Linked DNA regions of Homo sapiens. The protein of the gene in region 3 purifies or fractionates together with the protein of the main gene of each other region. This does not show direct contact. Each region holds a gene or a part of one and is shown on either strand. Other genes may lie near its edges.

What was found.
Region 1: the proteins of APIP (region 3) and DSG4 purify together in Homo sapiens (affinity purification with mass spectrometry; 3 studies listed by BioGRID and IntAct, with this or other methods). This does not show direct contact.
Region 2: the proteins of APIP (region 3) and UBA3 purify together in Homo sapiens (affinity purification with mass spectrometry; 3 studies listed by BioGRID and IntAct, with this or other methods). This does not show direct contact.
Region 4: the proteins of APIP (region 3) and VSIG8 purify together in Homo sapiens (affinity purification with mass spectrometry; 3 studies listed by BioGRID and IntAct, with this or other methods). This does not show direct contact.

Annotation. Positions count from the first base shown.
Region 1 is NC_000018.10:31,372,507-31,379,792, reverse strand, and holds the start of DSG4 (desmoglein-4 isoform 2 preproprotein), read right to left. Parts: upstream 3,017-7,286; 5' UTR 2,882-3,016; coding exon 2,834-2,881; intron 1-2,833.
Region 2 is NC_000003.12:69,070,357-69,077,380, forward strand, and holds part of UBA3 (NEDD8-activating enzyme E1 catalytic subunit), read right to left. Parts: intron 5,155-7,024; coding exon 5,074-5,154; intron 1,262-5,073; coding exon 1,179-1,261; intron 1-1,178. UniProt on the Homo sapiens protein: Catalytic subunit of the dimeric UBA3-NAE1 E1 enzyme. E1 activates NEDD8 by first adenylating its C-terminal glycine residue with ATP, thereafter linking this residue to the side chain of the catalytic cysteine, yielding a NEDD8-UBA3 thioester and free AMP.
Region 3 is NC_000011.10:34,885,371-34,892,394, forward strand, and holds part of APIP (methylthioribulose-1-phosphate dehydratase), read right to left. Parts: intron 5,183-7,024; coding exon 5,134-5,182; intron 3,500-5,133; coding exon 3,382-3,499; intron 3,059-3,381; coding exon 2,923-3,058; intron 1-2,922. UniProt on the Homo sapiens protein: Catalyzes the dehydration of methylthioribulose-1-phosphate (MTRu-1-P) into 2,3-diketo-5-methylthiopentyl-1-phosphate (DK-MTP-1-P).
Region 4 is NC_000001.11:159,859,635-159,867,658, reverse strand, and holds the start of VSIG8 (V-set and immunoglobulin domain-containing protein 8 precursor), read left to right. Parts: upstream 1-5,001; 5' UTR 5,002-5,137; coding exon 5,138-5,186; exon of another isoform or gene 5,187-7,013; intron 7,014-8,024.

The DNA.
Region 1 (7,286 bases), on a different chromosome or scaffold from region 3:
CATGTTTCAGAATAACATATTTGAGTGCATGTGAGAACTAAATTGATAAGTGGCTAAGTTAATTTTAAATATGTTTTCAAATTTTGATGCCTGCTCTCAACTTGCAATGAGATAACAGCTATATTTAGCCACCTACCTTTTTAACTTCCAAGAATTAGACTATTTAATGGAAGTGCTTACATCTTATATGTAGCATGAATGGTCATCACACATAGAGAAAAATTCTTATCTGATAAATGGTTGTCTTTTATGACCTTATCCACTTGATATAATATAGGCCTCTTCCAGCTAATAACTGTCCTGCCGTAAGTGATTCCTTCCTTATAAAATTTATACAATCCATAGAATTGCCTAAATCCTCAGATTCTCCAGCCAAATTTATGAAAACTATTTATGAGCCAGAAATGAACTTCTACTATGTAAGTATTCAGTGGAGATAATTTTAGAATTGCAGTTTCTACAGTGGAAGCAACTTAATAACATCATGTCTAACCATACATTCTCACATGAGGTCAAAGGAAGCCCTGAGAAGTTGGGTGCTTTTGCCAAAGTTACACAGCCACTTTGAAGAGGAGCTGTAATTCAAACCCGGGACTTCTGAATCTCGATTCACTGTTGAATGTCCCTCACCACCCCTGTCTGTTTTATAGAAGAACATGATAAGCATCCTTAGGAAGAAAATGCCAAATGACTCGTGATAAAATCAGTGCCCTATTGTAATCTAGAGTTTTGAGTACCTTTTGCTGGTTAGCCAGTCAGAACTTTGTTTACAGTGCTCTTTGCGGTTGAGATGTAGCTGACACAAAGTACCTGTGAGTCTCTGAGAGGCTGCCACACCCTCATTAGTGTAAGCTGCAATGATGCCCCAGAGAGTCTTTGATTTAGTTAATGAAGAAGGGGCAGAGTTCAAGTTCAGGAAATTAAAGAGAAGTAGGCATGTCTACTTTCCTATAATATCTATAACATCTCATTGATTCTCCTTAAACAATTCTTGTATTTGTTTCAATTTTGAAATATGCCAGAAGTCTCTACCTCCCAATTCCAGACACTATTAATTGATATGGTAAGGGATCTTTTAGACAAGCATAAAGAAAAAAAATACTTAAAGAACTTTTTCACAATTACCGTGAAATGTCAAACACAAAGACTTCAATATCAATGAGGAGTAGGAGGAATTAAGTATTAAAAACGCTAGTATTACCAAGGAAAATAAATAAATACTACCAAAAAAAGATCCTGAGAGTCTGAAGTATAATACTCTTTCAAGATCAAGGAGAAGAATCAACTCTTCAATTAAATAATATTATCATAAATCATGCCTGTGCAGAAGGCAATGGGAGGCAAGATTTAGTGCTCAGAAGTGGCCTCTAAAATCTTGACACATACAATTTTCCTTACAGAAAACCAAAAGTTTATCTGAGTCAAAGCATGAATATACTCGGTAGAAGAGTAACAAGAGGTATATCCTCATAACTTACTATTTCAATTGAAGACCAAGTCCGATTCTTGCCTCTTCTTTTAGTAACATTTATTTTATTTAGTAAATAAATAATGATCATTGTAACAGAATATTGCCCTTCGTCTTATGTTTTTAAGTTTAAAAATATTTTTCAAAAATGGTATTGTTTAATAATCTGTCTCCTAAACTCAGAGGATGCAATATTCTACCACTGTTGTCACGTTCCCTTTTGAGCTTGGGGTTGTGTGCCCTTTGGCAGTGTTCGGCTCCCGCACTGCTCTTGAAGTTTAGAAATGTGAATTCCAGAAGAGTAGCTCTCACTGTGCCTCTTGGACAATGACGTGCTCCCATCTCTCCCAGCCCTAGCTACTCTCTGTCTCTTACAACTGATGTTCAGAGGAGTCTGGTATAATTGCCACTTGCCTAAGAATAGGATGGGAATCACTTTCTAAGCTTAGGTTGTAGCGCTAACCTGGATACTCCTGGGAGATTGAAGTGTGGCCAACTATAATGCATTTGTCTTAATTTACTTTGAAAAATTTGTACAGTTCCTAATAATCCTGTCCTCTTACCCTCCCAGAATTGGCAATAGTTTGTTGATTGGCCAACTGGAACTTTGTTCTTCTTTGGAGTTGGAATTATCTCTTTCTAGGGTAGGATATTTGCTATGCATGCTGCCTGTCTGGAAATCATGTCACACCTTGGGCACCCAAAGGTTAGAGGAAAGAAATATAATATCCAAGATGCCATGTTTACTGTAAAGAAATAAGTCATTTAAATATTTCTTTGCTGGTCTGTAGGAATGCATTCATAATTCCAGAAAAGTTTTGTCTTGATGGCTGGGCTTCATTTTTCTTTAGCAATATCTGACTGGAAAAAGTTCTCATGACTTTAGTATGTCATCATTAGTTGCAATGTAATTTCAACATGGCTATCATTCCTCCACTTTGAAAGAAACTCATAGGGAAATAACTATTGAAAAGAAATGGGTTTGATTAACTTCCCTTCAAATTTAGAACCCATTTGCACTGGCAGTTTTCACAGCAATCTATCTGATTTATTTATATGATCATAGAATATGAATTTTATTTCCAATTTAAAATTTTAGAATAGTCCTAACACTCAAAGTGAAGTAGATTATGTCTCTGAGGGCATATAAATTTAATTCAGCCAGATTCTCACCCCGCTTCTCTATGGCATTTTGTTCCTCAAGGCGGAGAGAGTTGTTTGAAATTAACAGAGGCTGGACTTCTAGAACTCTCTTTGCAGGAAGGAGATTAAAAATGGAATAAATCCCATGTAGAAAGCCCGACAGTTGACAGAGACAAGACCTTGAGGCTGCATTTCCTTCCCACCTCTTTAAATTCTACTTACCATTAGAATGATCAAAAGGCAAATGTTTCTGAAGAAGAGCCAATCCATTCCTTTGGGTTTCTCTTGCACGCAAATCCTGTGAGATTCAATTTGAGCCCTCGTCTTCTCAGTTCCGAATTCTGCTCTACAGAAAGATATGCTTTGAGACACCCTTTTAGGAGGGCATGGGTGATAACTGTGGTGATCTCTGGGCAGAGAGATGAAGATATTCTATAATGACTGTTTCCCCACCCCAAACTCCCAGGCTGGTCTGGAAGACTGGCATTGTTTGGGCTCTGGGTAAGAATTTAGACACACCTTGATTCTTATTGCAATGAAACCCTTTGTTGGACACCAAAGAAAAACCTTACAGAGCGAGGACAAGATTTACAGGGAAGATAGCCAGTGAATAATAAATTACTCACAACATAAAAAATAATTAAAATGCTAGGGCCTATCATCATGCTGAATAAAATTAGAAGGCTTCTTCTTACTGCCAACATTGTAAAAGCAAAATTACATATACTGACAACACATACACACACATGTCCACTGCAGAACCCACTTCAAGGAATGATACTTTTAGCAGAGGCCATTGTTGAAAGTCATCAGGACTCAAGTATGGTATAGGAAGAAAGATAGAATAATGACGCTCATTTCAATTCAGTTGAGTCCTGCTTCTCTCTTTAAAATGTCTTGTGGTTGAACCGCACTCTCAATTTTAAAGATTTTCTGAAATAACAAAGTTAAGATGAAGGAACTCTGATTTAACTAGTACCAGTATGTTTGTTTCCATACTTTGGCATTTTCTTTCTTGATTATTCAGTCAAACCTCTACAATATGATATTTACAAAATCATTTTAAAGTAACTACAATACAACATTCTCACTTCTCATAGTATTACCACTGATAAAAAGTACATAATGTGGGTGAGGAACACATTTTACACCACCACAAATATTTATTAAGGAGAAACTGAAGTTGGAAACGTGAGAATTTAATGAAAAAAAGCCCAGAGTGGGATCTGGATATTTTTGAATATTATTTCCCTTTTTCGTGTCTCCCTTTTCCTTTGTTAGTATGGGTTTGAAACAGGGTATAGAGTGTCCTGATGCAAACATTGCAGGCTGGCAGCAACATCAATAAACTTAAAAGAAAATGCAGTTAACTGTTCTCTGATTGATAGATAATACATGTTGGTTGGAGAATTTCAAAGGGAGACTGCCTCCTGTCTTCACTATCCCATCACTGTAATTCAGAAACAAGGTTGACCCTGGTAATAGAATGTATTCTAAGTATTGCTTAGTTTCTTGAGAAAAGTAGTTTTAGTATTTTTGGAAGCCAGATAAAGTAATTTACTTTTGCATTATTTCATGTCATGTTGAATTAGATAATTTAATTTGCCTAAGAGAATTAATGAAACAACTCCAGGTCTTTAAGTGACATTGCTTTTTACAAGGGAAAAACAACATTCTTCTCTATTGTTGTGTTTGAAGGAGATATTTCACAAAGGTCTCTATCTTTTGTTTACACTATAGATGATTTCTTCTACATATAAGATTTTTCTTATATTTTCTTCTAAATATAAGATTTTCTATCTACTTGAATGCTATTTATAGGATGAGTTTTAAAGAAAAGAAACAGGAAGCAATAGAAATAGGTACTAGATCATTTATGTGGGTACCTCTAGCTTTCTCCATTTGAAACTCCTGATTTCAATGGTATCCAGAATTTGAATCCAGATTATAATTATGAACATATTTAAAAGATTCTTCAGTAACTAAGGAGGAACTACCTGAAGCCCCATCATTTCATTTCTGTTTACTCCTTGGAGATTTGTGGGAATGATCTTTTGCTTTAAAGTTTTTTTTGGAGACAGAGTCTTGCTCTGCTTCTCAGGCTGGAGTGCAGTAGTGGTCTGAGTGCAGCTCACGGCAACCTCTGCCTCCTGAGTTCAAGTGATCCTCCCACCTCAGCCTCTCAAGTACTTGGGTTTACAGGTGCATGTCACCACACTTGGTTAATTTTAAAAATATTTTGTAGAGACAAGGTCCTGCTATATTGTCCAGGCTGGTCTCAAACTCGTGGGCTTAAGTGATCCTCCTGCCTTGGTCTCCTAAAGTACTGAGATTACAGGTGTGAGCTACTGTTTCCCACAGGGGATGGATGATTTTACAGTGGAATTCCCAAAGACAAAACTTGGTTATGGTTCTGAGCTTGTGTAGATAAAGAGTAGCTACTTCCGTTTCTCTTGAAGAGTATCAGTCATTGTAGAAACAGAGCATAAAACATTAATGCTTAAAGATACCACAGAGATCATATAATCCAATCTCTCCTATCTTGCCTCTCTCCTACCCATGTGATAGTGATAGTCTAGGGAGGCTGTATGGTTTATTAGGGTCAAAGATAGGCAAGAGTTCCATCTCCTCATTCATAGTCAGTTTATATAAATACCAAGCCACTTTTCATTATTAGCTACGTATGTGAAGGCAAAATAGTGGATGGTTAAACACTATTAGCTTTAAAAGACTTTCCCATACTTTAGAGTTTACTGAACTGTTGGTTCTATGAGCAGAATTTTTAGCAAGTTTTTTATAGTATTTATTTTTGATGTCAAACCAGTGACATTTCATTTGCTCAGATGAAACCATACATTGGCTTTTAGGGATGCTACTGATATTTAATTATTGTACTTATGCTTCTATAATATTGTATAAAGTAGCAAGACACCTTTATTCTCCACATCACATCTGTGTAGAACACAGTGAGAGCTTTAACACCTGTACTTTTCAAATCAATGCCACAAAAGGCAAGGAATTCAATACATGCCAATACAAGTCCTCTTTGAAAAACAGAAATGTAATTTATACAGACAAAGATATTGTGGAAATGACATTAGGGCAAACTTTTCCATCAAATTATTCTAGTCTAGGGTTACTACTGGATATTATTCAAATATCCAAGGACAATTCTATTTCTTGAAAGCAAGAGTTAGGGGGAAGGAAATTTAAAAAATAATTATGGTCCTAAAGTATGGTGGTCAAATGCAGCACAAGTTGTTTCCAGAGCTGACGCAAGCAAAAGGTTTTCATCTGCCTGGGCCTGGGGAGGCGGGGACAAAAGGTAAACAAGGCTTGTCAGGGTTTTGACCTAGAGTCATTGCTGTGAACACATGTCTGTTCACCTACCACACTGAAGATAAACATCCTGTCCCCTCATTAAAGGCAACTTATGTATGGCAACAAGGGGCCGGCCAACCAGGTTATTTAGTGGGTGTTAGAAATCATAGAGATTAAACATCAGTTTCGTAAAGAGTTATGTTATTTCCATAAAGATGATGTTAGTTTACACCCTAAAATCATGCTTACATCCTGACAGAGATGCCTTGTTGATTATCTCTGTGAATTCACAGGTATAGGATGTATTCCAAATAAGTGGAGACAGAAGAGCGTGGCTTCTAGCTGTATGTTAAATAAAGCGTATTACTTACATACTTATTGCATACTTGCTACATACTTATCTAGGAAATATCATCTTAGTTTGCCTCCTGCCTCCCGATGACTACAGTGGCAACCATTCTACAGTGTGATAATTATTTAGATGTCACTCTGGTTTCTTCAGTGACACTGGCAGTGTCCCTCTTATGACAAAGTTGTATCATGTACATGGTTAACCTTTGATGCTGTTAGTTATATATCTGGCAACCTCGACTATGGAATCTGGTCAGCTCAGGATGTCTGAGGAAGAAATCCAGCAATAGGAAGGTCAAAAGGTAGGCAGTGTTTTTTGAAATATATTTCTTAGGCCATTATGTAGAAAATGCAGGTTCCCTGGCCCCAAATTTAGTGAATCAGAAGCTTTGGGGATGAGATCTAGAATTATTCATTCTTAACATACTCTTTAGGTAATTCTCGGGAGGCAGGCTGAAGTTGAAGAATTATTGAATCAGGGTAATCACGTGGCCCTATGGGTGGCCCAGGGAGAAATGGCACCAGGTAAAAAAGAACATTTTTCTTTTTTCTTTTTTTGAGACAGAGTCTCCCTCTGTCACTCAGGCTAGAGTGCAGTGGCACAATCTCAGCTCACTGCAACCTCCACCTCCTGGGTTCAAGCGATTCTGCCTCAGCCTCTTGAGTAGCTGGGATTACAGGTGCCCGCCACCACATCTGGCTAATTTTTTGTATTTTTAGTAAAGACGTGGTTTCACCATGTTGGTCAGGCTGGTCTTGAACTCCTGACTTCAAGTGATCTGCCTGCCTCTGCCTCCCAAAGTGCTGGGATTACAGGCGTGAGCCATGGCACCCAGTCAAAAACATTTTTCTAGTGTGAATAAGATTAGCATCTCTTCATGGGGTGGGCCAGGGGCCGGGGAGAGATACTGGCCATTTATATTTCTTTTTATTTGAAATATTTATTTCCTTTTTCCTGGTTTTCCACTGGGCTGCTGATGTCTTTAATACTGGTTCTTTCATG
Region 2 (7,024 bases), on a different chromosome or scaffold from region 3:
GATCTTCCACAAAGATAATGTAGAGGTTTTATGCCTATCCAAAAACTTAATGTTACCTTTTTTGCTAGCTCAACTTTATCCTATATACCCAGAACAATTTGAGCACTGTCAGTAACAGATGCAAACTTCCTAAATAGAGAGAGAAAAAAAAAGTCCTTATCTCTGTGTATCTTTGACTAACAAATATACACTTTTACCTAAACTACTCAAACCCCTCAATATTACATACTAAATTCATGAATGAACATTTCTTCATGTCTGGATACATGGTCTACTTCAGTTTTTGTTTTTTGGGTTGTTTTGTTTTTGTTTTTGAGACAGGGTCTCGCTCTGTTGCCCAGGCTGGAGTACAGTGGCATGAACACAGTTCACTGCAGCCTCCAGATCCTGAGCTCAAACGATCCTCCTACCTCAGCTTCCCATGCAGCAGGGACCACAGGTGCACACCCGGCTAATTTTTTAATTTTTTTGTAGAGACGAAATCTCCCTTTGTTGCCCAGGCTGGTCTGGATCTCCTGGGCTCAAGCAATCTTCTCACCTCAGCCTCCCAGTGTTGGGATTACAGGTGTAAGCCACCATGCCTGGCCTCTACTTCTCTTCTTAAACTCATCTTTAACAAATCACTCCTTGATGTTCTCTATATTCCATATATGCCTAAGGTAACCATCCCTCTTTGTTCCATTCCAATTGGTTCTGGTTTTTCTCTCCTCGACTTTCCATTTTCTTTCCCCTTGTAGGAAAAGCTCAAACTCTTTCCCAACTTTATTGCTCCAGTCACCATTCAAACCTTGGCTCACAAATCCCTGCCAATCTCTCACTAGGGCCTAATACTCCAGCGAGTATTCTCTTCTGACATCAACTGGAGGAAGAGCTACCGTTCTTTCCTTTCTTCAGAGCACAGTTAACCTGAGGATATTCCCAAAAATCACATAAACCTTTGGAAGGAGACTTCTTCGAAAAAACAAAAACATGTATTTGTTTACATAACTACTATCACCAAGATGCCCAAAATTTTCTTACAAAACTTTACCTACAATGGGAATGGTAGTTTTTGTTTTTTAAAATAAAATTAGTATTATCCTCTCAAGTCATTTTTAAAAATTATTAAACTGCAATGTACAAGTTCAAATGATTATCAGAGCTTAAAAAAAGAAAACCGCTAAGATATTAAAACTTACCTAAATAAAAACTGCCTATTTAGATTGGAAACATCTATAGTGTCCATATCTATAACATGAATCTGTCTAAAACCAGACAAGGCCTGTGGGAATAAAAACAATCCAATTAAGCAGAAGTTTCCTCACATTTAAAAACGTAACATTTGTTTTCAATGTAGTCTTAAGTCTACAAATTCTCAGTAATAAATTCTGTGTAATTTGTATTCAATGGCTGAAAGACTCTTGCAAGGTATATAAAATTCAGAGTTCTTGAACAGGTCAAAAGTGTACAATCACTCAGTTTCAAATAATCTATAACCAAAAGAGAACAACTCAAAATTTCTACGGATTGAAACTATTTTACATATATATATAATTCCATAAACACATTTGTAAAATTTGTTGCTTTGCTGCTATTGATGGATACTTTAATTTTACTATGCTTGCTATTATTTTTTCAAAATATTGTTAAAAGCAATTCTACAAGCTTTATTTTAGTTTACTTAATATTAAGCATGCCACAATTCAGAAATGGTAACTATTATAAGACATATATTATAAAAACACACACATGGGTAGGCTGTATTTGTAAAAGGAGTATCTTAAAAGATATTGAATCAAGAGCATGCAATTTAAAAAGCAGGGAAAGGCAAAAAACAAAAAACCTGTTAGGTTTCCATAATAATGCCATGCATTCTGAACAGTACAACCACATTCAAATTTAGCAGCAGATGCAAAAAACTGAAAAAAATAAGTCTCAATAACTAACTTTTCTGGTCTTGGTCAGTTTACTTCGATGATCAAATAACTTGACAATAATTTCCTCATTTTTCTGTCCCCCTATATACCAAGAGATCTTCAAGACTTATCCATATTTGTGCTTTCAAAGTCCTGACTGTTCTCAAACTCCACAGAAACTGTACTTGTCAAGTTCACCAATAACCTCCGTGTTGCTAACTCCAATGACCAATTCTCAATCTATCTGACCTTACCTTTCTGAGGTATTAGGCTGGGTGGGTCACTTCCTCCACCCTAAAACATGTTCTTCAGTTGGTCACCACACTCATGAGAATTTAAACACTTTTTAAAAATTGGTTTCCAGTTCATTCAGTTTTCTTCCTACTTTACTGGCCAGAATTCGGAGTAGCCTTGTGCTTTGTTCTGGTGATCTCAGACCATCTTGTAAGATATAGACCATCTAGCAGACATCTCAGACTTAACAGTTTCCAAAACCAAACTTGATCACCCTTGCTCACAACAACCAAATCTGTTCTTTTCCAGATCTTCCTCATTGCAGTAACTTCCTCATTGCAGTAACTCCATCTTTCCAGGTGCCCGCCCCTAGAGCAAAAACCTTGTTGTATCATCCTCGATTCCTTTCTCTCACAGCACACCACCAATCCATCAGCTAATCCTGTTGATTCCATCTTCAAAATATATCCATAATCTGACCACCTGTCACCACATCCAATGCTACCATCCTGTTTCAAGTCACGTTGTCTCTTGTCTAGAGGACTATAATAATCTAATTAGTCTCTCTGTTTCTTCCCCCTCTCTGCTCTTCCCTTAGTCTATTCTCAATGCATCAGCCTCAGTAACCTAGGTGAAAAGCCAATCAAGTCTCTCATTGCATAAATCTCTCCAATGACTTCATGACTCAGAGTAAAAGCGACAGCACTTACAGTAACCTCCAAAGTCTTTTGTGATATCCACTCCAAGCCCCTCCATCTCCCATTATCTGTCTGATATGGTCTCCAAAAATGCTCCCCCAACCCACTTCTGCTCTAGCGATGATAGCCTCCTTGCAGTCCTTGAACAAACAGGAGTGCTCCACTTCACAGCTTTGTACCTGTTATTCTCTCTAACTAGAATATTCTTCCTACAGATAACTGTATGGCTCATTTGCTCACCTTTGTACTCAATAGCACCTTTTTGTAAACCTTTTCCCTTCACACCATTTGACATACTATATACTTACTTTTTCATTCAACTAAAATGTGAGTCCCACCAATGCAAACACCTTTCTGTATTTGTTCAATGCTGTATCTTCAGCATCTAAAATGGTGCTTGGCATATGGGATGGAGGCTCAATAAATATTTGCTCAATCAGTAATATTAGTATCTTTTTTTTTTTTTTTTTGAGACGGAGTCTCGCTCTGTTGCCCAGGCTGGAGTGCAGTGGTGTGATCTCGGCTCACTGCAAGCTCTGCCTCCCGGGTTCACGCCACTCTCTCGCCTCAGCCTCCCGAGTAGCTGGGACTACAGGCACCTGCCACCACGCCCGGCTAATTTTTTGTTTTCTGTATTTTTTAGTAGAGACGGGGTTTCACTGTGTTAGTCAGGATAGTCTCGATCTCCTGACCTTGTGATCCGCCTGCCTCGGCCTCCCAAAGTGCTGGGATTACAGGTGTGAGCCACCATGCCCAGTCTAGTATCATATTCTTTTTTGTTAGAATGAGCCTTTAGGGGGCTTACAATGAATTAAATAAGCAAAACAAGGAGTAAAATTGAAAACCCTTAGTTTTCTTCTTTTGTGTAAAAGATTACTATAATGCAATAAAGAAGAGGTCACTCCTTAAAGTTGCTTGGTGACTAATCTTCAGATCTAATCTTCAATTATTTTACACTTAAAATTAGTAAATGTCACATTTGCAAATAATGGCTTCAAAATTTAATAAGCTTTAGGAAACTTGTACATTTATAATACCTAACAAAAACCAATGCCCATCCTCCATAAACCCTTTCCTTCTCTAAGTCTTTGGTTCTCACACTGCTAGAGTATTTATGTTTGATACGGTACTGTCATTTTGGCATTCCACCACAGAGTATATCATGCATACTGCTATTTATTTCATGTGAGATTTATCTCCCCAATGAAACTTCAGATTGATTGAAGACAGAGACCACGATGACATATAATCCCCACAGAACCCAGCAAGACATTAAATACAGTGAAGTATATTTAAGTTTTTACAACTTCACTCAAGCGACATTAGTGTTTCTTAACAAAATTAATGTGGCTATGTTTATATTTAAACTTTAACCCCCTTGGCCAATTATTTGGGTCCTCCATCTGGCTGTGACCTGCTTTATTTTCTAAAGAGTCTATTCCAGCATTTCCACTTTTCTACACAGCAGTGAGAAGCCTAGCATACAACTCTAAACCAATTCTGCCTCTACTCATTTGTTACATAAACTCATTAAAATTTATAGAAAGCGACTTTGTGATTAGAAAAAGTCAAGGAAACCAATTAATTAAATCAAATTATATACTTAATTTATTTCTAAATATATGCAAATAAGTTCAGTAAAGGTTTAGCTTTCCCAAACCTTAGGTGTCCACAATCGTCTTATTAGGTCATAAAATGACCTAATGGTTCACTGAAAAAGAACACTTAACTAAGAACTGATGACCTGGATTCAATTCCAGGCAAATCGCTATAATCCACAAAAACTTCAGCAACTCAGTCAACATCTCTAAACCTCAATGTCTCCCTCTATATAAAATGGGGTAATGCCTTACCCACCTAGCTGGGTTATTTGGGGAAGCAAAAGAAATAATAAATTATTTGAAACTATACATTAAAATATGAATTGCCAGTTTTGTTATTTACTTCATTGAAGTTAGGAGCGTTTTGCCAGAGGAAGCACCAAAAGTTGTTTGTTAAAGATCAGAGAAGAAAACTGAAGTATGAAATTTTATCAATAACTTTATAGCTGAGAGCTTTAGAATTTAAAAAGTTCCAAAGTTCTACCATTTTAATTACTGTTTGGAATTTGGCATGCTAAACTTATCTAACAAAGGCTCAAGAGAAAAGGTTAAGAATCACGAGAAATTCCCTAGTATGACAGATAAGTAAGGTTTACTTATCACAAAGAAGAAAAAAATATTTATATATATATGTATATATATTACCAGATTTTTCAGGAGCTCACATCCTAAGCCGCCAGCTCCAATGACTAGAACTTTACATGTATCTAACAAGAACTGGAGAGACTGTAAAGAATGGAAAGGCATATTAAAAGCTGGGTGATAACCGCAAAGACTATAAATAAAGCAACAAACTTTAAAATAGTTTCTGATGTTTCCAGGAAAAAATGCCACTAGGATAAAGAGGAGACTTTGTATTTGCTCAATTATTTGAAATTTGTGAATTCTATTGAACCAGGAATTCTAAAACTCTAATGATTTCAGGAAGTTTCAATGTTAATTTTTCTTTTTTTTTTCTTTTTTTTGAGACGGAGTCTCGCTCTTGTCACACAGGCTGGAGTGACTGATGGGATCTCGGCTCACTGCAACCTCCGCCTCCCAGATTCAGGTGATTCTCCTGCCTCAGCTTCTCGAGTAGCTGGGATTATAGGTGTGCACTACCACACCTGGCTAATTTTTTATTTTTAGTAGATACAGGGTTTCACCATGTGGGCCAGACTGGCCTTGAACTCCTGACCTCAAGTGATCCGCCCGCCTCAGCCTCCCAAAGTTTCTTGGATTACAGGCATGAGGTGCCGCGTCCGGCCATTAATGTTTTTAAATTGCCTTTTATTGTATGAAAGTTAAAGGGTATTTTTAACAAGGAAAACTATCTCTAATTTGTTTTTTAATTTTTGCAAAGGGATAGAGAACATCAAATTCAGTTAACTGACTTCCTAAAAATATAAAAGTTTAAAAATTTAAAAAACAGAGGATCAAGCACTGCCCAAAGTGTTTAAAGGAGTAAAACAATAAGGTAAAAAGAGTAACAGGGCTGGGCACTGTGGCTCACACCTGTAATCCCAGCACTTTGGGAGGCTGAGGTGGGTGGATCACCTGAGGTCAGGAAAGACCAGCCTGACCAACATGGTGAAACCCTGTCTCTACTAAAAATATAAAAAATTAGCCAGGTGTGGTGGTGGGCGCCTGTCATCCCAGCTACTTGGGAGGCTGAGGCAGGAGAATCACTTGATCCTGGGAGGCAGAGGTTACCATGAGCCAAGATCACACCATTGCATTCCAGCCTGGGCAACAAAAGCAAAACTCCATCTGCGGCAGATGGAAGGGGAAAGAGTAACAGCTGCTTTTTTTTTTCCTTTTTGAGACAGGGTCTCACTGTGTCACCCAGGCTGGAGTGCAGTGGCATGATCAGAGCTCCCTGCAGCCTCCACCTCCAGGTGCAGTCAAGCAATCCTCCCACCTCAACCTCCTGAGTAGCTGAAACCAAAGACATGTATCATCATGCACAGCTAATTTTTTTTTCTTTTCTTTTTTTCTTTCTTTTTTTTTTTAGAGATGGGTTCTCTCTATGTTGCCCAGGGTGGTCTGGAACTCTTGGGCTCAAGTGATCCTCCCGCCTTGACCTCCCAAAGTGCTGGGATTACAGGCGTGAGCCACCTTACCTGGCCAACATCTCCTTTTGAATAAAGTGAGCGAAACTCACAAAACATGAGATAACACGAAAACATATAAAACTCTTAGAAAATTCCTTATCAGCAGAAATACAATCATTTAACAGAAGTAACAATCTTAAATTATCAGGCAAAAAAAAAAATTTAGAAGCACAAGAAAATATGGTGTGTTATCTAAAGAAAGACAGAATTAATACTTTCAATTCTTTTTCTTTTTTTTTTTTTTATTTTTAATGCTTTCAGTTCTGCCCAGCATTAAAGGAGAAAGTTATTCACATGAGACACTGGGCCAAACCAAGAGTTTGCACGTTAATTTATGGGAGTAACACAATATTTCTATTTCAAAATACTATCTTTTTATAAATACAAAAGCACATAAAGATGTGCTATACTTTTCCCTACCCTGTAATAAAAAAAAGTGACATATAAGTGAACACTTGCCTTAAGATAGACACTATCAGTCCAAAATTCTACGCCTCTATTAT
Region 3 (7,024 bases):
TTATAATGGAGCTGAAAAACTCCATTATACCTGCACAGACCTGGTGGACTGAACAAAGGGGGCGAACGTGGGAATAAAAGATAAAAACAAGAGAGTACGTTTGGAAGAAGAGGTCGGGGGCACCTTGCCTCTAGTGGACAAGGGCCCCGAGCTGTACACAGCCCTCCGTATTTATTGGTAAAAGAGATAACGAGAAATGGGGGGCAATTGTCGGGCAATTGTCAGTCGGCCACTTTGGTTCACAGCAGGCTTGCAAGACTGCATCCTTTGAACAATAGGCTCTAGATTTCTCAATGGATAACTTCAAGGAGCCCGGTGCCAGGGAGTGATGTCCCTCAGCAAACCTTTTGGTGGCAGGCGCAGTGTGAGTTTGCTCACATCCTGCATTCATGATAAACAGTTTGCTGTTTGATCATATAGCCTCCAGTGGAATGCTGAGTTGATCACGATCCCTTTGGCCTTTTTGGCTCTCAACAACTCCTATCGCCTAATGACCGCATAGCTGTCATAGGGTCACAGCACAACATATTATGCAAATGTCTGTGGTGATGCTGGTGTAAACAAACCTACTGTGCTGCTAGCTGTATAAAAGTACAGCACATACAATTATTACAGTATGTAATACGTGATGATAATGACTATGTTAGTAGTTTATGTATTTATTACTCTATAATTTTAAAACACTATTTTAGGGTGTACTCCTTCTACTTATATGGTTTTTAAAAAGTTAACTGTAAAGCAGCCTCGGGCAGGTCCTTCAGGAGGTATTCCGGAAGAAGGCACTGTTAGTTATCACAGGAGATGACAGCTCCATGCATGTTACTTGCCCCTGAAGACCTTCCACTGAGACAAGGTGTGGAGGTGGAAGGCAGTGATATTGATGACCCTGACCCTGTGTACTCCTAGGCTAATATATGTGTTTGTGTCTCAGATTTTAACAAAAAAAATTTAAAAAGTTAAAAAAAATTAAAATAGAAAAAAGCTTATAGAATAAAGATATAAAGAAAATATTTTTGTATAGCTGTACAATGTGTGTTTTAAGGTACTATTACAAGAGTCCAAAAGTTAAAAAAAAAAAGTAAAAGCTTGATAAACTAAAAAAGTTACAGTAAGCTGAGGTTATTATTAAGAAATGTTTTCAATAAATTTCGTGTAGCCTAAACATACAATGCTTATAAAGTCTATAGTAGTGTAATGTCCTAGGCCTTCACATTTACTCACCACTCACTCACTTATTCACCCAGAACAACTTCCAGTTCTGCAAGCTCCGTTCATGGTCAGGGCCTTAGACAGGTGTGCCACTTTTTACCTTTTACATCATATTTTTTTTTTACCAAACCTTTTCTATGTTTAGATACACAAATACCTACCATTGTGTTGCAATTGCCTACAGTACTTTGTACAGTAACCTGCTATGCAGGCTTGTAGCCTAGGAGCATTAGGCTATACCATATACCCTGGGTGTGCAGTAGGCTATACCATTTAGGTTTGTGTATGCACTCTGCTGTTCACACAATGATGAAATCACCTAGTGACACATTTCGCAGAACATATCCCCATCCACAGTGACAAGTGACTGTATTTTAAAGCTGTTCTTTATATAAAAGATAAACTTAAAAAAATACAGTAGAGAATTTTAAACTCCATCCTTTCTTACCTCATCCAGCTTTCATTGCCTTTCTTTTGATTAGACTCAGGATTCTCTTCAAATTCAGATAAAATAACACTGCCTCCTGAGCTGTGTTAATGACTCTATTACTCATTTCCCAGCTAGACTCCAACAGAATTGCAAAGGGCCACCATGCTTGGCCTCTCCACAAAATTGCAAAGACTCTCTCTTATGCCCTGTTCCTCTACCTTACTTTTTCCAAACTCTTTTCAGAAAAACTGATTCTTCTGACCTATTTTTATTTCCTCACCAAAACAATAACATTCATATGAAACTGATAGTACCCATAAGGCCTCTCCTTCAGCCCCAGATATGGAAGAGGCAATCTGGGGCTCTACTTTCCTCAGTATGTACACTTCTCTTAATTTAAATATTTAACTTTTGTAAACAGGTGTTTCACAGTCCTGAGGAATGCTTTAAGCACACAATAAATATTAACTGAAATCAAATCAATTTCTCAGTGCACTAGTTTAAACATGCACATTCCATTACATGCAGTAAGAATATGATATTGTGGTAATAACACTTTAGTAAAACTGGCACCGTTTTCCTCTAAACAAGGCAAGGTAGAATCAAGCCCTTTAGGAAATTAAGAGTGAAGGTTCAGGAATGAGAATGCTAATAAACTCAAATGAAATGCTTAGCTTGTCCCTGAACACTGAGAACATGTTTCTTCCTGCCGTTATATTCTAGAATTATGAAGAATTACTACACTTTTGTGGACTGATGAATTTATTTAAACTGATCTAGAATGGTAATCTATACTTACTATCCATTTCACCTTAAACACTGAAAAATTCTAAAAATATAGAGATCTACTTTATTAAAAAAACTTACATAAATATGAAAATATTCCAGAAATACTAAATTAAATCACCATGAAGTATAAACTGTAGTCACTGGTCAAATTTCTGAAGACAAAGTGAAGTTGAAGATATCTTTGGCTGCCTCAATACAGGAACATAATCTTTCCATCATGATAGAGATCTCAGTCAAGATTTTTTTCAGTTTAAACAAACATTTCATTATTCATATTACTAATAATTTACCATGGCTGGGGTAGGGGCGGGAGAGGAGGGAAGACATCCCATTCGTGTCATGAGAATAGGTCTAGAAGTGTAATATTAAATGGAGTATTATTTAACACAGATCCCACGACATCTCATTATATGCATAAAATGATCAGTATTCTATTTATCAAAGAGAAGGAAGAATTCTTTTCAAATTATTTAAGAAAAAGGAAAAAAAAATACCTATAATACCCTCCGGAAGTACATTTCTTTATTCCTTTTATCATCTCTTGATGTGTAATTTTAAACTCCCGTCCTGGAAAGAGAAGTGTGGCCATCACAGCAGCTTTAGAGTGGGTATGAATCACTGCACCTGCTCCTGAAGGAGGAAGAAGAAAGCCGCATGCTCAATGAAGACTGAATTATAGCTTTTAAAGAAAAAAAGTCCATATAGTTATACTTATATTTACATATGGTTATGGGCTTATTTTTCCTGGCATGGAATAAGTTGGTAGTAGGCAGGAGGGTAAGTGGAATAATGGACCTTCCTCATAGGTTGATGTGAGAACTGAGTAAGTTCATGCACTTCAAGTTCTTGCACATGGTGGGTATCCAAGAAATGTTAACTGAAATAATAATTACCATTATTTAGAGGAGCCTACTCTGCAAATATTCTTTATGTTGAATATATTTTCTGCATACCTCTCATTGTGTAAGCATTCATGAAAAGAGGAGTACACTGGCTTTTTTTTAGCTTCTTCGATGGCGAAGGTCCACTTATGTCCTTTTCATTTATATCACAAACAAACATGTCTTCAGGCTATTTATAGAGGGGAAAAAAAGAAAAAAAGAAGGCTTGTAAAATATCAATTAGAAATGTTCCTTTTCTTGTGTACATATACATAAGAATACAAGAAAGTTTATCTATAGTATACATACTTGTGTGTATATTTAGTATACATATACATAGAGTGCTAATATATGCATATATTTAACTTACATTTTAAATATATAATTATAGTTTCTCAAAATAATTTAGCAATTTTGAGAAATAAAACAGTGATTTCTACTAGTAAAAATATTCTCAGAAGTTTAATACAAATCCCAAAAATTAAAAAAAATTTGAAGACAAAAAATGATATGGAAAATTACTATTTATGTAATGATGTTACTGCTGTCATTTCAACAATTTAGCTTCTCAACTTTGCCCTATAATTTCACAACTGTATTTCAGAAAGTCTATATAAAGAAATCGACATTCCAAAGATGGGTGTTAAAATTTTTTTCCCCACATTTTGTTAGATAAAAGCAAAATTTTGAGTAATTTTTCTAACCCTTGAGAAATTTAGATGGTACTCAGAAAGGTTAATCTCAATAAGGTATATTCTTCTTAAAGCTTAAGAAATTATGTAGATCTACAGGTTTTTCTTTTTTTTTTTAACTTTTATTTTAGGTCCAGGGGTACATGTGGAGGTTTGTTACATAGGTAAATTGCATGTTACAAGAGTCTGGTGTACAGATTATTTTGTCACCCATGTAATAAGCATAGTAACTGACAGCAGTTTTTCCATCCTCACTTTCCTCCCACCCTCCACCCTCCAGTAGGTCCCAGTGTGTATTGCTCCCTTCTTTGTGACTGTATGTACTCAATGTTTAGCTCCCACTGTAAGTGAGAACATGCGGTATTTGATTTTTCTGTTCCTGCATTAATTCACTTAGGATAATGGTTTCCAGCTCCACTCATGTTGCTGCAAAGGACATGATCTTGTTCTTTATTATGGCTGCATACTAATCCATGGTATATATGTACCACATTTTCTTTCGCCAGTCTACTGTTGATGGGTATCTGATCCACATACAGTAAAGCATGCGTATTTCTGTAGCTTTTATCTGCCAGGATTTATTAAAAAACTACAATACAAATGTTTTATTAACAAAGCAGCTTTTCTTTTTTTTCTTGCATTAGAAGTTAAATAATTATGTGTTTGCTTTAACTAGATTTGGGGTATTATTCTGGCATTAACACAGAATAAGACTTCTCAAAATTTGAAACAAAGTTTCATAACTTGAAATCCTGAAATTAGAATAACTTTGCTATTAGGAAATATGAATTAATTTGGTTCATCTGAGACCATCAATCTGATTATTCCACCAGCCTGATAAAGATCGTAGTGTTATAAAGCTGCAAAGTTATAATTGCTCTTTACTGTGATTTAAGATTGCACTATTCACTTTTGCCCCCTATAGGTTGAATGAGATTTCAAAACATACACCGGTTGTATGGAAGATATCTACCACCTTACAAAACATTTAATAATTACTCAATAAATGTTTGCTGATTAGTTATTCAAATTGCTATGATAAAATGAATGTTTTCTCTTAAAATTAATTCCATTTCATAAAACAGTAATTAAGAAGAAAAGACACTGAGGTTAAAGAATCCCATTACCATACCTGAATTCGTTCCTTTTGCACTCCTGAAGGAGCAATGTAGATTTCATCGCTGGCAACACAAAACATACAAATTGGTATTTATTTATTTCCTGCTTTTGCACAAAGAAAAGTTTGCAGTCCAATCATGCATGTTCTTTATAAATCAAGCAATACAGCCAGTTGCTTGATTTAATTATGGATTTTGGCTGCATAGAAAGAAAGCCAAACTACATCAATGCCTTTGTAGTGCTGGTGGCATTGTAGAATATTAGTTGTTGCTTTTGTCTTCTACGTTTCATATATATTTATTCTTTTTATAGTGCAAAGTTGGTGGTAACCAGGCTTTTATCCTGTTAGGGGAATAAAAATCTGAAAACATAAGTTTTCAGCGTCTTTAAACATGAATAAGCAGAGTTTAACCTATGTGAAATACAGTTATTCTAAAATCCAATCTGGAAAATATGCTCAATAGAAGTATATTTCTGTCATGCAAAGAATCAGGTTTGATTTATTGTTTGAAATGCTCTTCTTAAACCATGAAGTTCAGAGACCTCTGCTGGACAGTTTCTTAAATTACTGTATTAACACTGGGCTACTTTTTGGATAGAATCACATGCTTCCCATTTGAAAAGCATACATATCTTGGAAAAAAATTTAGTAATAAAGCTAAAACAACTACAAAGAGTTCAAAATATCAGAATGGCTACATGTGAAGATCTCTTTGTTACAGGATGTTGGACTAAGGGAGATGCTATAGACTACCATTTACCACAAGGTGCTCTCAAATTTGATTTGGAAATTAATTTCAAATCTTCTCTAAATTCCCTCCACCCTCAACAACAACTAAACAAACGTCCCTTGGCTCACATATCAGGTTTTTTCTCTTCTCGCTGGATATCTTTGATAACTTACCAGTTTCAGTTGCTGCCAGAGAGTATTAATGAGCTACTGCATATATGCAAACCAAGAAAATGCCAGTACCTGCATGCTCTAGTTTCTGCTAGTAAGGCACAGACACAGGGATATTGAACAAATATCAAACATTTCATAGTGTAAATGAGGATGATGGCCTATATACCAAGCTGCTGAAGTTCAGGTTGCTAATAAACCTGTAGGCTTGGAACCGATAAAAATCTAAGGTGAAATCAAAGTTTCTTTAAGGTTCCACTGATAAAGTCTAGAAAACAAATGTCTGATAATGTGAGTGGAAATCCAATGCACTGTTAGCTGCACGCGAGCATTTGCTTTCATGAAGTGGCTATTGTTTCCGAGTTCTGCAACATAAGGATAACATAAAGGGACATTCCTCTGCAACCAGTGAGAATGGGTTGGGATCATACTATTAACAAGGGCTCTTTGTGAATACCAGTGATCCAAATCTTGTGTCCTTGTGTAACATGGAAGAAGCTCTAGGATGGTACATGGTCCACTCACCTCCACAGATAAGTGGACTTGTGGGTCTTCTTATGTGGGGAGAAATTTATGCAGTCCTGGGAATAGACTCAAATAAAGTACAAAATGGTCTGCTGGTAAGTAAAACCCATCTATAAAGTAGGAAAACCAAGGGTACTCTGTTTATTCAAGTGACTTGGTATGTTGTAAATGTCTTTGTAAAATGGAAATTAATTTAGACTTTGATGAACTTTGGGTAATTAAAAGATTAGCCAAATGTTTTAGAAAAATATATTTACACCTACAAAGAAAGAGATATCTGGATAAAAATATAAAAATGACAGAGCTTTTTAGAATAGAAACATGCCAAATATTAAAGTGAAATATCTACTTGGTGCTTTAAGCCACAAACAGAAAGCATTTTGAATTTCAAGTTACTAAATTTTGGAATATACTTCTCTGTACTCCTGCATTTTCACTGTGGTAAGCAAGGGCCAAACCCCAAGAGGTCAAAATACAT
Region 4 (8,024 bases), on a different chromosome or scaffold from region 3:
CTACAAATTAAAATGTCAAAGTCCCATTGGACCTGTGGATTAATTCATCTCAAAGTTTCTCTCCCCATAAACAGACAGACTCATGGTTCAGGACAATCAATTTTAGTTGCTTAATCCACCCGATGGCCTGGCTCTGATCCCAGTGAGGTGCTCTGGTGTTCTGGGTAGAAGGTCCCAAGAGGTTCCGTTCTCAAGGATCTTCCTTCCTCAGTTAAAAAATAATCGTCAGCTGTCACTCCTGGCTTTGCTCTTCTCAGTCCATGTCTGGCAGGGACCTGGCTTACTTACCAAGCCCAGAAATATTCCCCTGGCCTCCTCTCTCCACCCGCTACTCTTTTCTCTGGCACGCCGTTGTTAGTTATCCTTCAGATCTCGGCTTAAACATCATTGCCACTAAGTCAGGGGCCTTGCACGTATTACTGCATCTTACCACATTGCGGGCCAGGAGCTATTTCCGTGTCAGATGGGGTGTTCTGTGAGGATAGGGACTGAGTCTCCTTAATTGCCATTTCCCCAGGGCCTAGCACAAAGCCTGGCTGTTTGCTGAATGAATGAAGGTTCTGCAGGATGTGGTTGATCTTGGCGAGGTGAAGATACCTTTATCTTCAAAGCCTCTTCATTCTTCCTCAGATCTGTCATCAGGGAATCACATAGCCTTTACAAGCGATTTCTTCTCGCCTCCACTCATTCTCTTGCTAACAATTCAGTTGGTGGCATTCAATCGCCTCCCTTTGCTCTTGTGCTTTGTTGATGTAGTGACAACTCCAGCCACTCCTTTAATTGATGGGGACTATGTGTGTGCTGCTTGCTCTTCTGAGTCTGTCAGCTTCAGGACATTGCTTGATGGGAGAGATGTGGGCATATCCAGGCTCCTCCTAGAATCCCACTTCTTCTGAAGTGTACCAGTCAGAACCACTGAGGTTTGGGAAACCTAAGCAGGAGCTTGGGGAGTCCCTGTGTCACCTGTGTTCACGGCTCTTCCCTGCCAGCTTTGATTTGAGCCTTAGTTTCGAACCCAACCCACACCCTCAAACTTAGCCCCACATGTCGATCTCATCCCTCTCTGTAACCAGAATCCGACGTTGTCCCATCACCACCCATGCAACCTCTGAGCCCCCTGCCCTTCTCATGCAACCATGGCCTCACCTGGCAGACCTCCACCTCCAAATCATCACTGAAAGCTGGGTGGACAGACAGCAGCTGCAAGGCTCCTTGGCTTCTCTGTGACTCTTTGCCTATCCATTGTCACTCACAGCTTCTGCTCCCAGAGTCTTACCTCAGAGGTTTCCTCTGCAGGACAGCTCCTCCCTGGGTGCTGCAGGGTGAGCCCTGGGCTACATGGGGACTTGGGAGAGGGGGCTGAGGAGCTTGCTGACTGTGTGGGGAGGAGTTTAGAATGAGTCAAATTGCAGTGCCAGCCAAGGCAGGGGTTGTGGGGAGCTTGATTGAGCCTGAGCCCAGGGAGTCTGGCGGCCACTGAGAGGGGTTGGGGTGGGCAAGTACAGGCAGGGGAGGGCAGGGCTTAGAGGAGTGGGGTGGAGTTGCCATGAAAGGGACTTTGGAGGAAGAATAGGCTTTGGAGGAAGAGTAGGCAGCCCAAGCCCTCTGTCCGTCCTTCCCAGAAAGGTTCTGGGGCTGGGCTGCACTTCATCTGGTAAGCAATCTGTGGCCTTCTCTGAGTTTTTGTCCAGCCTCTTCCTACCTCCTGTATCTCCCTGTTTACTCCTTTCTAAGCCAGTCTTTGATTTTCTGTTACTGTCTTAGAATAGAAGCAAATACCAGTCAAAGCAGGGCCATTCTTCCCTGGAGAGTCATGGATTTCTTAGGAAAAAGCAAGGGGCCCTTTTGGAAATTTGTATTGGTTCCCAGCTCGTGGCCTGGGCCCTCTGCCTCCTCTGTATCCCTCTGAGTCTCTGGAGGGGCCATTTAGACCATGTGTCTTTCTGTCTGCCTCTGTCCCTGTCTCTGTCTTTGCCCCTTAACTCATCACTATCTCTCCCAATCTCTTTCTTCTCTCTCTCTGGGGTCACAGGGGGAACCCCAGTAGTCTCCTGGACCAGACCTTTATAAAACCTGAAAAGGAAGTGGGTGGGGAAATGAGATGTTTGGGCTGGAGACTGGTTGGGGAAAAATGAGAGGGAGGAATTGGGACGGGGTCTTCCTAGGAGTGGGGCCCTCTTCCACTGCTGAGGATAAGGCCCAGAGACTTACACGGACTGTGAGCTGGGCCCAGAGGGAGGGGACTGTAGGACTGTGACATATGCTTTGGAAACTATGCTGACACCCCAGTGCCTTCACCCCATCCACAGCCTCCCCACTGCTGCCCTCCCTGAAAACCCTGCAGGGCTCAGGGTTTAGGGCTGGAAGGCTGACAGCTTCTTTTATAGGACTCAAATTGCAAGAAGGTAGCAATTAAGCCTCAGAGGGTCAAGGGGAAACAACAATGGCACTCTGCCCTTTCAGGCTTTGAAAGACCCCCATGTGGTGCCCCATAAAGTGGCTGTTCTAGGAGCATGTAGGCCCTCAGTTTCTCCCAACTCCCATCTCCTAAGGACTCCAAATCCAGACCACCCCTCCTCCCCACTCAGTAAGACTCCCTCTGATGGACCCCATCTTCTAGTTCGGTTTGGTGTCAGAGCCCAACTCATTGTCAGTAGCTTCCTGCGTCTCCTCCCCAGATGTTTTTCTGGAGCTTGGCCAGGTGGTGAGCTTTAGTAGTGGAGCAGGACTTCAGAGGGTCCATTCTCTATGGGATTTAGTTGCCTCATACCCCTTAGATGGGCTCGTGTACATTTGGCTTCCTCCTCCAAGTCTTGGGACCCCAATCAACATGTGCCATTAGTAGTCTCCCCGCACTAAGGATTGAAAATTCTAGCCAAACCTGGATTTAGCAGATGGAGGCTGAAGTCTTTCTATATTAGAAATAAAACCTCATCTTTGATCCCCATCAACTCCCGCTGCTTACGTGTCTTTAAACCATGTTCCAACCCTAACCACAGCCTATTTCAATGTGAATCTCAAACTTAGTTCTAACCCAATGCTAAATCAATCTAAACCCAGCCTTTGATTTAGCCCTAACTGTATTCCCAGGCAGAGCTGTAAATGAAACTAAAACTCTATTCCTTATCGTAACACAAATCCCAGCCATAAACCTGAGCCTCAATTCTAGCTGTATTTCTAACCCTAATCCCAACCTTAACTCTAATCCCAACCTCAAATCTGACCTCAACCTCATTCATAATTCAACTAACCCCAAACTTAACCCCAGCTCTAACATTAGCCCACATCCAGAACCCAATTAAATCTGAAGCCTGCACTGTAGTTTAGTGGAACCACAATGTTACTGCTTTCTCCTCAATCTCTCTGTTCGTGGTCTGACCTGTTTTCCCTCCCACTCACCCTGACCTTCCATGGTTCTTGTTCGTGAGTGGGTCTAGTAATCCACAGGATCACCAAGACCATTTTTTGGACCTCTCTGGACTGACACCCTGGGTACCTGGGTATCCCAGCTTAGGCACCAGCCGCATTGGCTGAATCCCCATGTTTCTCCAGGTCTCTGTTTCCCCATCTGTAAAATGGGGATAATGATCCCTGCTCTTCAAAGGGAGCAGGACAATCCCATAAACCTAAAAATAAATAAGGAAATAAAGATATTCATTGTGTACATCTGGTAGGTCTCAGAGCGCCCTGTTATTGTTGGGAGTTCAGGTGCAACGGCTTGGAATGCAGAGACGCGTGGACTCCTTGTGTTTCCTTAATGTTCTGACTTATTTTTCCCCAGAGGGGTGGGCCCTGGCAGCATCCCTGAGCCCCATAACTCTCCCTAACACTCTTCCTCCTCTGCCCTTTCTGTGCCCCATGGTAGGGATGGGGGCAGTCCCTGACTCCTTTGAGGGAGTTGAGCTATTGAATGGGGTCACTCATGTCCTGACTCCCACCATGGAGTCCAACAAGGCACATGCCCATTCTGTCCCCCTTAGACAAGCCAACAAGGGGTGGCCCTTCACTTGCTCCCCATGCCTACCAGGACCCTCCCCACCCCAGCACGAACTTACCCAGAACTGTGCTGGTTTAGTCAGCCCGATGACCAGTCCAGGTTATGAGGGTCCTTGGTCTCAAGGACCCAGTTAATACTGGGACTGCATTAACCCTCAAGACCTGGCTACTCTTTCTGGGCAGAGAAGCCAGGACACCAAGCGATCCCTCAAGAAGTTCACTCAGAGGGGCTTAGCCATCCTCACAGAGACACCCTGACACAGACATCCTGCCTCCCTCCCACAGACATTGCTGAGGGGTGCACACGCTTACACAGGCACCCCCTTCCCTGGTCCTCTTGGCGCTGTTCTCTCCAACACTCCCTCACTAGCCCATCAGTCACCTTACTCCTAGCACACACCCTGGACCCCCCATAGCACCCCTGCTCCCAGGGGTCCCCTACACTTGGGGATGGCCTTGAGTCGAGTATGGGTGTGGAGGACAGTTCCAGAGGGGACAGCCAGGAGGAGACTCTGTTCCTGCACACACCCCTTCTCTCCTCTTTCAGCTCAGGAGGCCTGAGTCCCTTTGAAAGGCCTGAAGCCTGGGGGAAGGTGGGCTGGACACTCCTGGGGAACCCTATGCCCTGGGATCAGGATTAACTCTTCAGGTCCTGGCCACTCTTTCTCCCAAGCCTGGCTTCTCCTTCCTCTTCCCCACTTCCCCCAGGGAAGGAGGCAGCAAATGAGTGGTGAGGGGAGCCCTTGGAAGCTGTAAATGAGGTGACTGTTGTCACCCTGAGGATGTGGCCAGGAGGAAGTGAAGTTTAACAGGTGCCTAATTACAAGTCCCGCTGGCTGTCCTGTGCCACTCTTAGGACAGGGAAGAGCTTGGGTGAGGGCTGGGTAATGCCCAGGTAGGCCACCCTGTCACCCTGCTAATTAGGGTTCCTGGGACTCCTCCCCAAGGCGGGGACCAGGCCCCCTCCCTCCCATAGAAATAACTCCAGCTGCTCCCCAGCTGGGCACTCATTGCACCTTCCTGCCACCCCAGGCAGTGTCTGGGCCCTCAGCTCCCCCTCCCTCCACCTACCCCCTCACACCCACCACTACGACCCCACGGGATACCCAGCCCAGACGGAGGAAACACCGAGCCTAGAGACATGAGAGTTGGAGGAGCATTCCACCTTCTACTCGTGTGCCTGAGCCCAGGTACGGGGCTGGGCAGGGGGCAGGGTAGCCAGCATGAGGCTAGGTGGGAAGGAAAGGGGCAGCAAGGGCTCACAGTGGAGCCTGGGGCTGCCTGAGTTGCCTGGCAGGGTGCTGCCCACCCTTGCCCTGCTGCAGCCGGGTGTGGGTATTACCAGGGGACCTTTCCCCAGGAGACCCTGTGCCTGATGTTCAGGGTGTGTGTCTGTAGTGCAGAGGTCTTTGAGTGGATCTTTATATGTCCCCTGTCGGGCTCACACATGTGTGCAGGTGCCCTGCAAGCTCATGCCGTGACTAGGAGGAGAGGGATTGATTGCTCTGCAGGAGCTGGAGGTGGGGTAGGAGAGGGGTAAGCACGGGCATTGGGTGAGGGCTCAGGAGGAGCTTGGGAAGGATCAATTTTCATCAGACTGTGTGCTATTCCCAACGCTACTCCTTCTCTCCCAAGGCCAGGGCCAAGGGGCAGGGAAGTCACTTGCCTTGAAAGGGCAAGAGACTAAGTCTGGTGTAAGTCTGAGTGGTTTCTTCCATCATGGCCAGTGACAGCTCAGGCCTGAGACCTCAGCCTTGGGCCCCCTGTGCTATGACAGGGCAGTGCCCCACTCTAGGATGAGGCCTGAGGGTGGTGGGGATGGCAACTCCAGAGACTTCTCACCCCACCAGGACAGGTCCACAGGGCAGGGCTCAAGTTTGGACATTGTGGCTTCCTGCCCAGGTTGGGGCAAGTTCCACCAAGGGGCATTCTATGCCAACATCACTGGAAAGGGCTCCGAGTCCCTCTTGCAGTCTGGATTTGGGATGAAGGGGCATGAAGGAGGAATTTGGGAAGGCGGGGTGACATTTTCAGCCTTTGTGTGAGCGTGAATGTGTATGTGAGTGTGTGGGTGCGTGCACCTGCATGGGAATGATGACATTTCCGGCAGGATAGCTGCAGCCCTTCTCTGTCTGATGAGAGCAGGGCTGGCAGAGTCCACTCGGGAGGCTCCAGCTGTGCTGTGGGGACCCGGACTTCCCCCTGTGTGGTGTGTCAATGGGTGTGTGAGGACAACTCAGCACTGGCTGCATTAACGCATCAATACCCTCAGCTGGAGCCGCCTTTTCTCCCCTCCCTTACCTCCAGAGGGAAGATCAGGAGTTCTGGAAGCACCTTGAAGATTCAGAAAGAATTTGCAAGCAGAGAGTAGGCACCACTATTGAGATGACACCCCGTAAAGCATGGCCAGTTTCTGGTGCTTTTGGGGGGCAAAGAATCACCACTGTCCTCTTCCTTGGAGAGCCCATGTGATTCCTCCATTCCTGTCTCTCCTCAAGTCTCCCATCCAGCTCTCTCTTCCACTTTGCCTTTCTTCCCTCTCTCCAGCCTCTCCTCTCACATTCCCTGTAGTACTTCCTTAGTGCTACAGCAAGAGGAATCAAGGTGAGACATTAGGAGCAACTTCCCAAGGAGAGGGAGGGGTGCGGAAAGGCTGGAACCCTTGGGAGGAGGTTGAGAAGACTTCTAAGGAGATAGAAAAGCTGGGTGAGGCTCCCTGGTCTGGGACAATTGAAGAATCTCTCAGCCTGGTGCAGGGTGGAGGTGCTTTTCTTGCAGCCTGTCGCTCCTTCCCAAGCCCCTCTCCCTGAATGCTTACCATCCTGCCTGGCAGGCTCCTATGGCATGGAGAGAGTCCTTCCTGTGTGGGTGCTTCCAGCGGTGCTTCTCCAGGGTGGAGCCTCTGCTCTCAGCCGAGTTCTGGCTCATCCCTGGCTTGCCTTGAGCAGCCTCAGGATCTGGCAGATGGCAGCAGGATCCTTATCTCAGGAATGAGCTGTTGTTCTCTTGGCCTGGAGCTGGAAGAGGCATCACTAGGTCCCGTTAGAGCCCCAGCAGTCAGCCTGCCTGCTCTGGGTCACCTTGGAGTCTAGCTGGGTTATGACAGAGCTGATGGCCCAGCCAGTGTTCCTAGGGGGGATGTTCAGGGATCCCTGAGCTGTTGAGGGTGTTGAAAGGGCCCTTGCTGGCCTCTCTGGAGCCAGGCTAAGCCTTCCTGGCAGGGCTTCCATAGATATGTCTGGTCTTGAATGAACACATACAGGGACTATATGAACACACGGTGGGTGTGTCTTTTGAATTAATATGTTCTGTGTTTGTGTGCAGATTGTGTCTGTGTCTGAATGAATCTATATAGTGTCTGTGTTTGTAGGAAGGTGGGGCCATATAGGTATGTATCTGCATTTTGAAGCCTTGTAAGAGTGGGCCACGTGCCGATTTGTTTGCCTGTGATGGTGTAATTGTGTGTGTGCATGTGTGAGATCTCTATGTGTAAACATGGTCCTGAGCCACATGATAGAACAGAATGATTGCTGAGACCTGGGGCTGTGACTCCAGAAGACATGTTGACTCAAAAAAGAACGCAGACGGAGAGTGTGTGAGGCCTGGTGAGGGGCCTGCAGAGGCAGGGTTGCTGGAGACTGGGAGGTGGAGGGCAGAGTGTCCAGGGTGGGGCCCTGGCTACACCCCCCGGTCTTATCCCTCTCTAGGTCCAACCGGTTGGGGATAGGCCTGCCTGGGGCTTCAGGGTAGGGAGGGACAAGAGCTCAGTCCTGAGCTCCTGGGTCCTGGGATCCTGGCTCCTCACCCAGGATTGCCTGCCACTGACTCAGTGGCAGGAGGGGCCTCACTGGAAGCCAGCTTGTGGGGGCAGCTGCATGCGAGCCACACAATCACATAAGAGGAAGCACACACAGTACGCAATGCTGTGTAGTCAAGAAAGACTCACAATGTCCTACAGATACCTGTGGCCATAGTCCCAGGCACACACCATCACTCACTATCACACACGAACACAGCCAGGCTCCTGG